Regions from separate parts of the Homo sapiens genome. Here region 1 is linked to region 2. Evidence: fine-mapped expression QTL. A gene starts in region 2. The other region holds a variant in brackets. All regions are shown on one strand. Distances are between the middles of the regions.

Region 1 (5,375 bases), 95 kb before region 2:
AGATGAGTAGGTTGCGAAAATTTTCTCCCATTTTGTAGGTTGCCTGTTCACTCTGATGGTAGTTTCTTTTGCTGTGCAGAAGCACTTTAGTTTAATTAGATCCCATTTGTCAATTTTGTCTTTTGTTGCCATTGCTTTTGGTGTTTTGGACATGAAGTCCTTGTCCATGCCTATGTCCTGAATGGTAATGCCTAGGTTTTCTTCTAGGGTTTTTATGGTTTTAGGTCTAACGTTTAAATCTTTAATCCATCTTGAATTGATTTTTGTATAAGGTGTAAGGAAGGGATCCAGTTTCAGCTTTCTACATATGGCTAGCCAGTTTTCCCAGCACCATTTATTAAATAGGGAATCCTTTCCCCATTGCTTGTTTTTCTCAGGTTTGTCAAAGATCAGATAGTTGTAGGTAGGCGGCGTTATTTCTGAGGGCTCTGTTCTGTTCCATTGATCTATATCTCTGTTTTGGTACCAGTACCATGCTGTTTTGGTTACTGTAGCCTTGTAGTATAGTTTGAAGTCAGGTAGTGTGATGCCTCCAGCTTTGTTCTTTTGGCTTAGGATTGACTTGGCGATGCGGGCTCTTTTTTGGTTCCATATGAACTTTAAAGTAGTTTTTTCCAATTCTGTGAAGAAAGTCATTGGTAGCTTGATGGGGATGGCATTGAATCTGTAAATTACCTTGGGCAGTATGGCCATTTTCACGATATTGATTCTTCCTACCCATGAGCATGGAATGTTCTTCCATTTGTTTGTATCCTCTTTTATTTCCTTGAGCAGTGGTTTGTAGTTCTCCTTGAAGAGGTCCTTCACATCCCTTGTAAGTTGGATTCCTAGGTATTTTATTCTCTTTGAAGCAATTGTGAATGGGAGTTCACTCATGATTTGGCTCTCTGTTTGTCTGTTGTTGGTGTATAAGAATGGTTGTGATTTTTGCACATTGATTTTGTATCCTGAGACTTTGCTGAAGTTGCTTATCAGCTTAAGGAGATTTTGGGCTGAGACAATGGGGTTTTCTAGATATACAATCATGTCATCTGCAAACAAGGACAATTTGACTTCCTCTTTTCCTAATTGAATACCCTTTATTTCCTTCTCCTGCCTAATTGCCCTGGCCAGAACTTCCAACACTATGTTGAATAGGAGTGGTGAGAGAGGGCATCCCTGTCTTGTGCCAGTTTTCAAAGGGAATGCTTCCAGTTTTTGCCCATTCAGTATGATATTGGCTGTGGGTTTGTCATAGATAGCTCTTATTATTTTGAAATACGTCCCATCAATACCTAATTTATTGAGAGTTTTTAGCATGAAGGGTTGTTGAATTTTGTCAAAGGCTTTTTCTGCATCTATTGAGATAATCATGTGGTTTTTGTCTTTGGCTCTGTTTATATGCTGGATTACATTTATTGATTTGCGTATATTGAACCAGCCTTGCATCCCAGGGATGAAGCCCACTTGATCATGGTGGATAAGCTTTTTGATGTGCTGCTGGATTCGGTTTGCCAGTATTTTATTGAGGATTTTTGCATCAATATTCATCAAGGATATTGGTCTAAAATTCTCTTTTTTGGTTGTGTCTCTGCCCGGCTTTGGTATCAGAATGATGCTGGCCTCATAAAATGAGTTAGGGAGGATTCCCTCTTTTTCTATTGATTGGAATAGTTTCAGAAGGAATGGTACCAGTTCCTCCTTGTACCTCTGGTAGAATTCGGCTGTGAATCCATCTGGTCCTGGACTCTTTTTGGTTGGTAAACTATTGATTATTGCCACAATTTCAGCTCCTGTTATTGGTCTATTCAGAGATTCAACTTCTTCCTGGTTTAGTCTTGGGAGAGTGTATGTGTCGAGGAATGTATCCATTTCTTCTAGATTTTCTAGTTTATTTGCGTAGAGGTGTTTGTAGTATTCTCTGATGGTAGTTTGTATTTCTGTGGGATCGGTGGTGATATCCCCTTTATCATTTTTTATTGTGTCTATTTGAGTCTTCTCTCTTTTTTTCTTTATTAGTCTTGCTAGCGGTCTATCAATTTTGTTGATCCTTTCAAAAAACCAGCTCCTGGATTCATTGATTTTTTGAAGGGTTTTTTGTGTCTCTATTTCCTTCAGTTCTGCTCTGATTTTAGTTATTTCTTGCCTTCTGCTAGCTTTTGAATGTGTTTGCTCTTGCTTTTCTAGTTCTTTTAATTGTGATGTTAGGGTGTCAATTTTGGATCTTTCCTGCTTTCTCTTGTGGGCATTTAGTGCTATAAATTTCCCTCTACACACTGCTTTGAATGCGTCCCAGAGATTCTGGTATATTGTGTCTTTGTTCTCGTTGGTTTCAAAGAACGTCTTTATTTCTGCCTTCATTTCGTTATGTACCCGGTAGTCACTCAGGAGCAGGTTGTTCAGTTTCCATGTAGTTGAGCGGCTTTGAGTGAGATTCTTAATCCTGAGTTCTAGTTTGATTGCACTGTGGTCTGAGAGATAGTTTGTTATAATTTCTGTTCTTTTACATTTGCTGAGGAGAGCTTTACTTCCAACTATGTGGTCAATTTTGGAATAGGTGTGGTGTGGTGCTGAAAAAAATGTATATTCTGTTGATTTGGGGTGGAGAGTTCTGTAGATGTCTATTAGGTCTGCTTGGTGCAGAGCTGAGTTCAATTCCTGGGTATCCTTGTTGACTTTCTGTCTCGTTGATCTGTCTAATGTTG[A/G]CAGTGGGGTGTTAAAGTCTCCCATTATTAATGTGTGGGAGTCTAAGTCTCTTTGTAGGTCACTCAGGACTTGCTTCATGAATCTTGGTGCTCCTGTATTGGGTGCATATATATTTAGGATAGTTAGCTCTTCTTGTTGAATTGATCCCTTTACCATTATGTAATGGCCTTCTTTGTCTCTTTTGATCTTTGTTGGTTTAAAGTCTGTTTTATCAGAGACTAGGATTGCAACCCCTGCCTTTTTTGTTTTCCATTTGCTTGGTAGATCTTCCTCCATCCTTTTATTTTGAGCCTATGTGTGTCTCTGCACATGAGATGGGTTTCCTGAATACAGCACACTGATGGGTCTTGACTCTTTATCCAATTTGCCAGTCTGTGTCTTTTAATTGGAGAATTTAGTCCATTTACATTTAAAGTTAATATTGTTATGTGTGAATTTGATCCTGTCATTATGATGTCAGCTGGTGATTTTGCTCATTAGTTGATGCAGTTTCTTCCTAGTCTCGATGGTCTTTACATTTTGGCATGATTTTGCAGCGGCTGGTACCAGTTGTTCCTTTCCATGTTTAGCGCTTCCTTCAGGAGCTCTTTTAGGGCAGGCCTGGTGGTGACAAAATCTCTCAGCATTTGCTTGTCTGTAAAGTATTTTATTTCTCCTTCACTTATGAAGCTTAGTTTGGCTGGATATGAAATTCTGGGTTGAAAATTCTTTTCTTTAAGAATGTTGAATATTGGCCCCCACTCTCTTCTGGCTTGTAGGGTTTCTGCCGAGAGATCCGCTGTTAGTCTGATGGGCTTCCCTTTGAGGGTAACCCGACCTTTCTCTCTGGCTGCCCTTAACATTTTTTCCTTCATTTCAACTTTGGTGAATCTGACAATTATGTGTCTTGGAGTTGCTCTTCTTGAGGAGTATCTTTGTGGCATTCTCTGTATTTCCTGAATCTGAACGTTGGCCTGCCTTGCTAGATTGGGGAAGTTCTCCTGGATAATATCCTGCAGAGTGTTTTCCAACTTGGTTCCATTCTCCCCATCACTTTCAGGTACACCAATCAGACGTAGATTTGGTCTTTTCACATAGTCCCATATTTCTTGGAGGCTTTGCTCATTTCTTTTTATTCTTTTTTCTCTAAACTTCCCTTCTCGCTTCATTTCATTCATTTCATCTTCCATTGCTGATACCCTTTCTTCTAGTTGATCGCATCGGCTCCTGAGGCTTCTGCATTCTTCACGTAGTTCTCAAGCCTTGGTTTTCAGCTCCATCAGCTCCTTTAAGCACTTCTCTGTATTGGTTATTCTAGTTATACATTCTTCTAAATTTTTTTCAAAGTTTTCAACTTCTTTGCCTTTGGTTTGAATGTCCTCCCGTAGCTCAGAGTAATTTGATCGTCTGAAGCCTTCTTCTCTCAGCTCGTCAAAGTCATTCTCCATCCAGCTTTGTTCCATTGCTGGTGAGGAACTGCGTTCCTTTGGAGGAGGAGAGGCGCTCTGCGTTTTAGAGTTTCCAGTTTTTCTGTTCTGTTTTTTCCCCATCTTTGCGGTTTTATCTACTTTTGGTCTTTGATGATGGTGATGTACAGATGGGTTTTCGGTGTGGATGTCCTTTCTGTTTGTTAGTTTTTCTTCTAACAGACAGGACCCTCAGCTGCAGGTCTGTTGGAATACCCTGCCGTGTGAGGTGTCAGTGTGCCCCTGCTGGGGGGTGCCTCCCAGTTAGGCTGCTCGGGGGTCAGGGGTCAGGGACCCACTTGAGGAGGCAGTCTGCCGGTTCTCAGATCTCCAGCTGCGTGCTGGGAGACCCACTGCTCTCTTCAAAGCTGTCAGACTGCTTTTTTTTTTTTTTTTTTTTTTGAGACAGAGTCCCGCTCTGTCATCCAAGCTGGAGTACAGTGGCGTAATCTCGGCTCACTGCAACCTGCGCCTCCCACGTTCAAGCGATACTCCTGCCTCAGCCTCCCAAGTAACTGGGATTACAGGTGCGTGCTACCACACCTGGCTAATTTTTGTATTTTTCATAGAAATTGGGTTTCCCATGTTGCCCAGGCTGGTCTCAAACTCCTGACTTCAAATGATCTGACCTCCTCGGCTTCCCAAAGCGCTGGGATTACAGGCGTGAAGCACGACGCCTGGCCGGGGAGAACATCTTCAACTTGATAAACAGTATCTTCAAAAAACCTACAGCAAACGTCATACTTAACAGTGGGAAACTAGAAGCTTTCCCACTAAGAGCAGAAATAAGCCAAGGATATCCCCACTCACCACTCTTTCCAACACCGGACTGGAAGTCCTAGCTAATGAAATAAGGCAAGAAATAAAAAGAAAAATAAAACTGTCTTTGTTTGCAGATGACATGATCATCCAAGAAGAAAATCAAAAAACTGAAACCAGGCAGTGATTACAGCAAGACTGCAGGATACAAAAGTCAATCACTTTCCTATATACCAGCAATGAACAAGTGGAATTTGAGATTAAAAACACAATACCATTTACATTAGCACCCCTCAGAATGAAACACTTAGGTATAAATCTTAAAAAAAATTAGAATATCTATATGAGAAAAATTAAAGAAGTGATTAAAGAAGTCAGAGCACTAAAGAAATGGAGAGATATTCCATGTTCATAGACAGGGAGATTCAATATAGTCAAGGTGTCAGTTCTTCCCAACTTCATCTACAGACTCAATGCAATCCCAAT
Region 2 (5,375 bases):
CAAGTTGGCCTGCTGCAAAGCACAGGTTCATATTGTACAGGAGGTAGGTCTGGACGTTCTTTCAAAGGAGTAAGGAGACAAGCCAGGGGTACAACCATTCTTGTAGCCTCCAGCCGGCTGGAAGGCCACACGTTCCAACTAAAACGCACACCATCCCGTTCTTCATTCTGCTGGATGAACTCCAGGTATGTCGCCATAGTCTAAAAGGGAACTGAAGATAAAACTTTAATTACCTTAATGGTATGTGAAATTCTGAACTAAATGTCAAAAAAAGAAGATGGGTCATGTAACACAGTGTTTCTCTTTTTTTCCCATCTCAGCTCACTGCAGCCTCCACCTCCCGGGTTCAAGCGATTCTCCTGCCACAGCCTCCCAAGTAGCTGGGATTACAAGCCTGTGCCACCAAGCCCGGCTAATTTTTTGTATTTTTAGTAGAGGCAGGGTTTCACCATGTTGGCCAGGCTGGTCTCAAACTCCTGACCTCAGGTGATCCACCCGCCTTGGCCTTCCAAAGTGCTGGGATTACAGGCGTGACCCACTGTACCCGGCCCAACTAACACAGTGTTTCTTAAATACTTGGGAAGAACCTGTTGCTGTAGAATGACAGTATTTCTTTTCCATCTGATACCCAAAAGTCAGTTAACCGCACAGTTATCATTGATCACTGCTCCTTTCTCACCTCTCCTTTCAAGCACTTAAAAATAAATCAAAGGAGTGGGAGGTTTACAATCACCTGATCATCTCCAAACTACATGTAGTTAAACACTACTACTTCAAACCTCCTCACAGATCACACGTCCTATCAGTCAAGCCAATTTCAGCCCCTTGCTCAAGGGTAAGTCTTGAACCCTGTTTCGGCATCCAACTATCTTCCTCTCTAATCTCCTTCCTTTCTTCCTCTATTAAATTTTACATTCCAAGTGATTTTTTTTTCAGTAGCGGGGGGGTGCTCATTCCCTTCCGCACTTTGTTAACTTTGGAGAAAAGAGCTGGATACTGATCTTCAAGTTTGGTTCATAATGGGAACCAGTTTTGAGCTAAATTATTTCTACTTGGTATTACCAAAATTACTATTATGCTGAGTCTCACCAGAACCTCTTTCCTCACCACGGTTGCTTATGTTCATGCCTTGACAGGCTGTGGTCAAGGCCAGGTGTGGTGGCTCACACCTATACTCGCAGCACTTTGGGAGGCTGAGATGGGCGGATCACGAGGTCAGGAGTTCAAGACCAGCCTGGCCAACACAGTGAAACTCCGTCTCTACTAAAAATACAAAAATTAGCCAGGTGTGGTGGCACGTGCCCATAGTCCCAGCTACTCAGGAGGTTGAGGCAGGAGAATCGTCTGAACTCGGGAGGCAGAGATTGCAGTGAGGCGAGACAATGCCATTGCACAGCCTGGGCGACAGAGCCAGACTCTGTTTCAAAAAAAAAATGAAGACTGTGGTCAGTAAAACTGTCCTACAGGCTAAACTCTCAAACCCAGATGATCCCAACTTCATTGAGTATTTATACATCCTGTTCATATCCTAAAATCTAGGGTAACACACAACTCAGCTATTGGGGTTCAAGGGAACAAGCCCCTCAAGAAAAGTAGTAAAAAGGCAAATTAAAGAGTCTATCAAATTAAAGTGGCCTCTCGCGCCCACTTCCTGAATATGGATAACAACTGTCTGTTATTTTGGGAAGTACCATACTGTAAATAATTTTGATTAAGGCAATAATATTGCATGGCTAGAAAAGCAAATGAATTACTCTACTACATAAAGCCCAGAACACAAGAATTCCAATGTTTGCTCCAACTGAAACTCTAAGAAATCTGTTTATTTCTGGCAACGGCAAGAACCTGAAGCACTGTGTGCACAGGAAGCACTCTGGAGCTTCATGGGAAGCAAAGGGATAACTAAAGTCGGAATGAAAGCAAGTTCTATCACAACTCTCAGCAAGTATGTCAGCAGATTTCATTAAATAACCGTCTCTCTCTCAAAACGTTCTTTATTAAAAGGCACTGGCGGCCGGGCGCGGTGGCTCACGCCTGTAATCCCAGCACTTTGGGCGACCGAGGCCGGTGGATGACCTGAGGTCAGGAATTCAAGACCAGCCTGGCCAACATGGCAAAACCCCGTCTCTACTAAAAATACAAAAATTAGCTGGGCGTGGTGGCAGGTGCCTGTAATCCCAGCTACTCGGGAGGCTGCGGCAGGGAGGACTGCTTGACCTTGGGAGGCATTGGTTGCAGTGAGCCGAGATCACGCCACTGCACTCCAGCCTGGGCGACAGAGCGAGACTCCATCTCAAAAAAAAAAAAAAAAAAAAAGAAGCTACTGCCTCCATCTAATGGTTTCCAAGCATGTACAGCCTAAGACCTGCTCCCTCCTTTTCCTACTGCCTGTTTCCCTCACCCTTCTAGGGTCTGGATTCTTAGCAGTGGACACATAATCCAAGGGGACTATAGAAGGTCCACTAATCATCTGAAGTTATGCGCATGAGGGAATATGCCGTTTTTCTAGGGAGATGGGTCCATAGCTTTTACCAAAGTATCGGGGAAGGTATCTGAAGAGGTAAATAACTGAAAGTATGAATTAGTGAATGAATGAAAGGCCTGGAAAGATAACAGGAGAATATGCCAAAAAATCTGAACCACCCTTATCGCGCCAACTCGTAACTTCTCAGGACACAGTGACCATGTGTATGTAAGAATAAGTGAGGTTTAATCCTTGAAGGGAGTCCAAGGACCTGGGTTCCAGTTCCAGCTGTCATGAAGCAAAAGTCGTTTCACTTGTCTGAGTCTTGAGTTTCTCAACTATAAAACGGGACTTGGGTCCTTCCAGGTGTGCGCACTCCGCAATTCTGGGGAAACTGGAGCCAGAAATCGGTCCCGGCCTGGTGCGGGACGACATCCGCAGGGGACTCCCGGATCATCCATTCCCCCGCTACCCTAAACTGTCAAGAAAAGGCCTCCTCCCAGAAGCCGCTCACCTCGCCCCCGGCAGAAACTCATACCCGTGCCCTCGGCCCTCCGTCACCTATGCGCCCCGCTCACCTGGCCGGAGCCGCTCACCTAGCTAGAGCCGTCCTCACCCACAGCTGCAACAAGCAGGCTCCGGCTCCCACCGCCAAGTCCAGCTCAGCTCTCAACCGATTGGCCAGCGCCCCAGCGCGTCATGCCACGGCGCTGTCCACTGGCCAATCAAAGAGCGCTTCTCCGACGGACTGGAGGAAGCGAGAGACTCAGAGAAGCTCTGCCACCATCTTGGAACAGGGCAAGACAGGTGTATGTCGCACTTCAAAACGAGAGTTCCTCGGAACACGTTTCCCCACCCCTAAACGTTTCTGTTTCAGAAAACCCCGGCGCCTGCCGCACCGTTGCCTAAGCGCAGCCAGCGCTCCTCAGAGGTTCGCCCTGATACAATATGACATCCGCTCGTCTCAGTGGGAAGTCCCGCTGATCGCCTTAGCTACCGGAAAGCGAGAACGATGACGTATGCTCGCGGAACAGGGAGCTGCACTGGTTGGAAGAAACTAAGGCTGCCGGAAGAAGGCATTAGCATGCGGAAGGGGCGGGGCGGGTGGTGAGCGCGGCGGCGCTTACGCACTTGCTGGTTTGGGAGTCGGTCTCTGTGGTTAAGTTTGAAGTACAGAGGTGTGGTGGTGCTTCACGTTACAAGCTCTCCTACCGTCGCTTGCTGTAATGTCTTGGCGCTCTCAGCGGAGGCTGGCACTAGCGCACAGTCCCTGTCATCCTTCTACATGGAGATAAATAATTGAGAACTGTAATATTCAACCATTTTAGGAGAGTAAGCTTAGAAATACATGGAACATAACTTTCTTTTAAAAAATAATTCCAACGTTTAGATTTAGGGGGTACACTGCGTATTTGTTACCTGGCTATGAGGTTTCGAATTCGAATGAGCTGGTCACCCAGATACTGAGCATAGTACCCAAGTTTTTCAGCCCCTCCCTGCCTCCCTCCCCACTCTAGTAGTCCCCAGCGTCTATTAATGTCACCTTTGTGTCCATGTGTGCCCAATGCTTAGCTCCCACTTTCAAGTGAGAACATGTATTTGGTTTTCTGCTTCTGCGTTAATTCTTTTAGGATCATGGCCTCCAGATGCATCCATGTTGCTGCAAAAGGCGCGATAGAACACAACTGTATAAAGCCACCACAACCATTTTTACACACGCTGACAAGTGGCAAACATGAACACATCATTACTGTGACTCAGAGTTGTAGTCTCTGTAGCATATAAAAATAAGCAAAACGATGTAAACATAAAATTATGCAAGAACATATCTAGGCATCCAAGAAGTATCCATTAATTAGCTCAATTTAATACTAAGTTTTAAGTTATCTACAGATCATAGAAATTATTAATAGTTTAAGGCACAAAGAAACAATTACTGTTAAATGTGAGAATGATTCAGTTTTGTTGAACAAATTCACATTTTTCAGGATCTTAAACAATGTAATGTTAATATTAGCTTATCAATAGTAAACTTTTATAAATTTAGGAAGTTCAGATTAATTATTCTCGGTAAGGAAACAAACTCAAAATGTACACATGTATAATACTTAACACTGAGAAAAGACATAGCTGGGATTTTTTTTAACCAAAACTTAATATTATTCGCCAAAGATTTGCCTTGATTATTTGAACCTGGATTCTTTCTGTACTAGCAATTTCTGTAAGAAAGATTGTTATAGGACCATCAGGTTCGATTGTCCATTGTGCGGTAACAGAAAGAATAGGAGTTGCAGCAGATAAAGAGTTCCATAATCAAGTGGCAGCCAAATGAGGAGACAAGAGCAATCCTCAAATCCACCTCCCCAAGAGATTAGAGATGGCATTTTTAAGAAGTCTGGAGGGGCAATGGGCTAAAGTGTGGGGATTTCTGATTGGTCAGGAAGTGAGAGGTGAAGTCATGGGACAGGGAGATGAAGAAACTTCATTCCAGTGTTGTTTCTTGGTGGAGGTCTTTATTTATTTATTTAAAAAAATTTTTTTTTTGTAAAGCAGGGTCTCACTTTGTTGCCCAGGCTAGTCTCAAACTCCGGGCTTCAGGCGATCCTCTCACCTTGGCCTCCCAAAGTGCTAAGATTACAGGCGTGAGCCACTGTGCCCTTCCTGGTGGGGATCCCTAGACAGTTTGGCATCAGCTGTTTTGTGGGAATTCAGGATCTGAAAAATACCTTAAGCAATTCCTGGGTACAAAGAGCTAGTGTCAGAGATTCTGTGGATAGGAGCAATCAGGGAGTAGGTGATCAGTGTGCTGCAAGGCTTTTGGTTAGTTAGCAGCTGCAGGGAAGTGAATTGAAGGGCACCAATGCACCCTGGTCAGTGCCTAACTAACCTGCCTAAAGGCTGGCTTGTAATC

Evidence for each region. PIP is the estimated chance that this variant, and not a neighbour inherited with it, causes the effect.
Region 1: its variant is the best candidate, but not a certain one, in a credible set for the expression of SEC23B in CD4 T cells (BLUEPRINT, PIP 0.81).

The regions. Positions count from the first base shown.
Region 1 is chr20:18,600,656-18,606,030 of GRCh38, reverse strand. The region is part of intron 3 of DTD1 (D-aminoacyl-tRNA deacylase 1); the gene reads right to left. Among named protein-coding and RNA genes, the nearest start is that of DTD1, 15 kb to the right of the region's middle. The variant A/G (reference allele first, on the strand shown) is at 2,685.
Region 2 is chr20:18,505,658-18,511,032 of GRCh38, reverse strand. SEC23B (SEC23 homolog B, COPII component) reads right to left here and starts at 3,093. Exons shown (of 20, transcript NM_006363.6): 1 at 3,061-3,093; 2 at 1-211. The coding sequence starts at 197. RefSeq lists enhancers at 2,823-2,872, 3,223-3,552.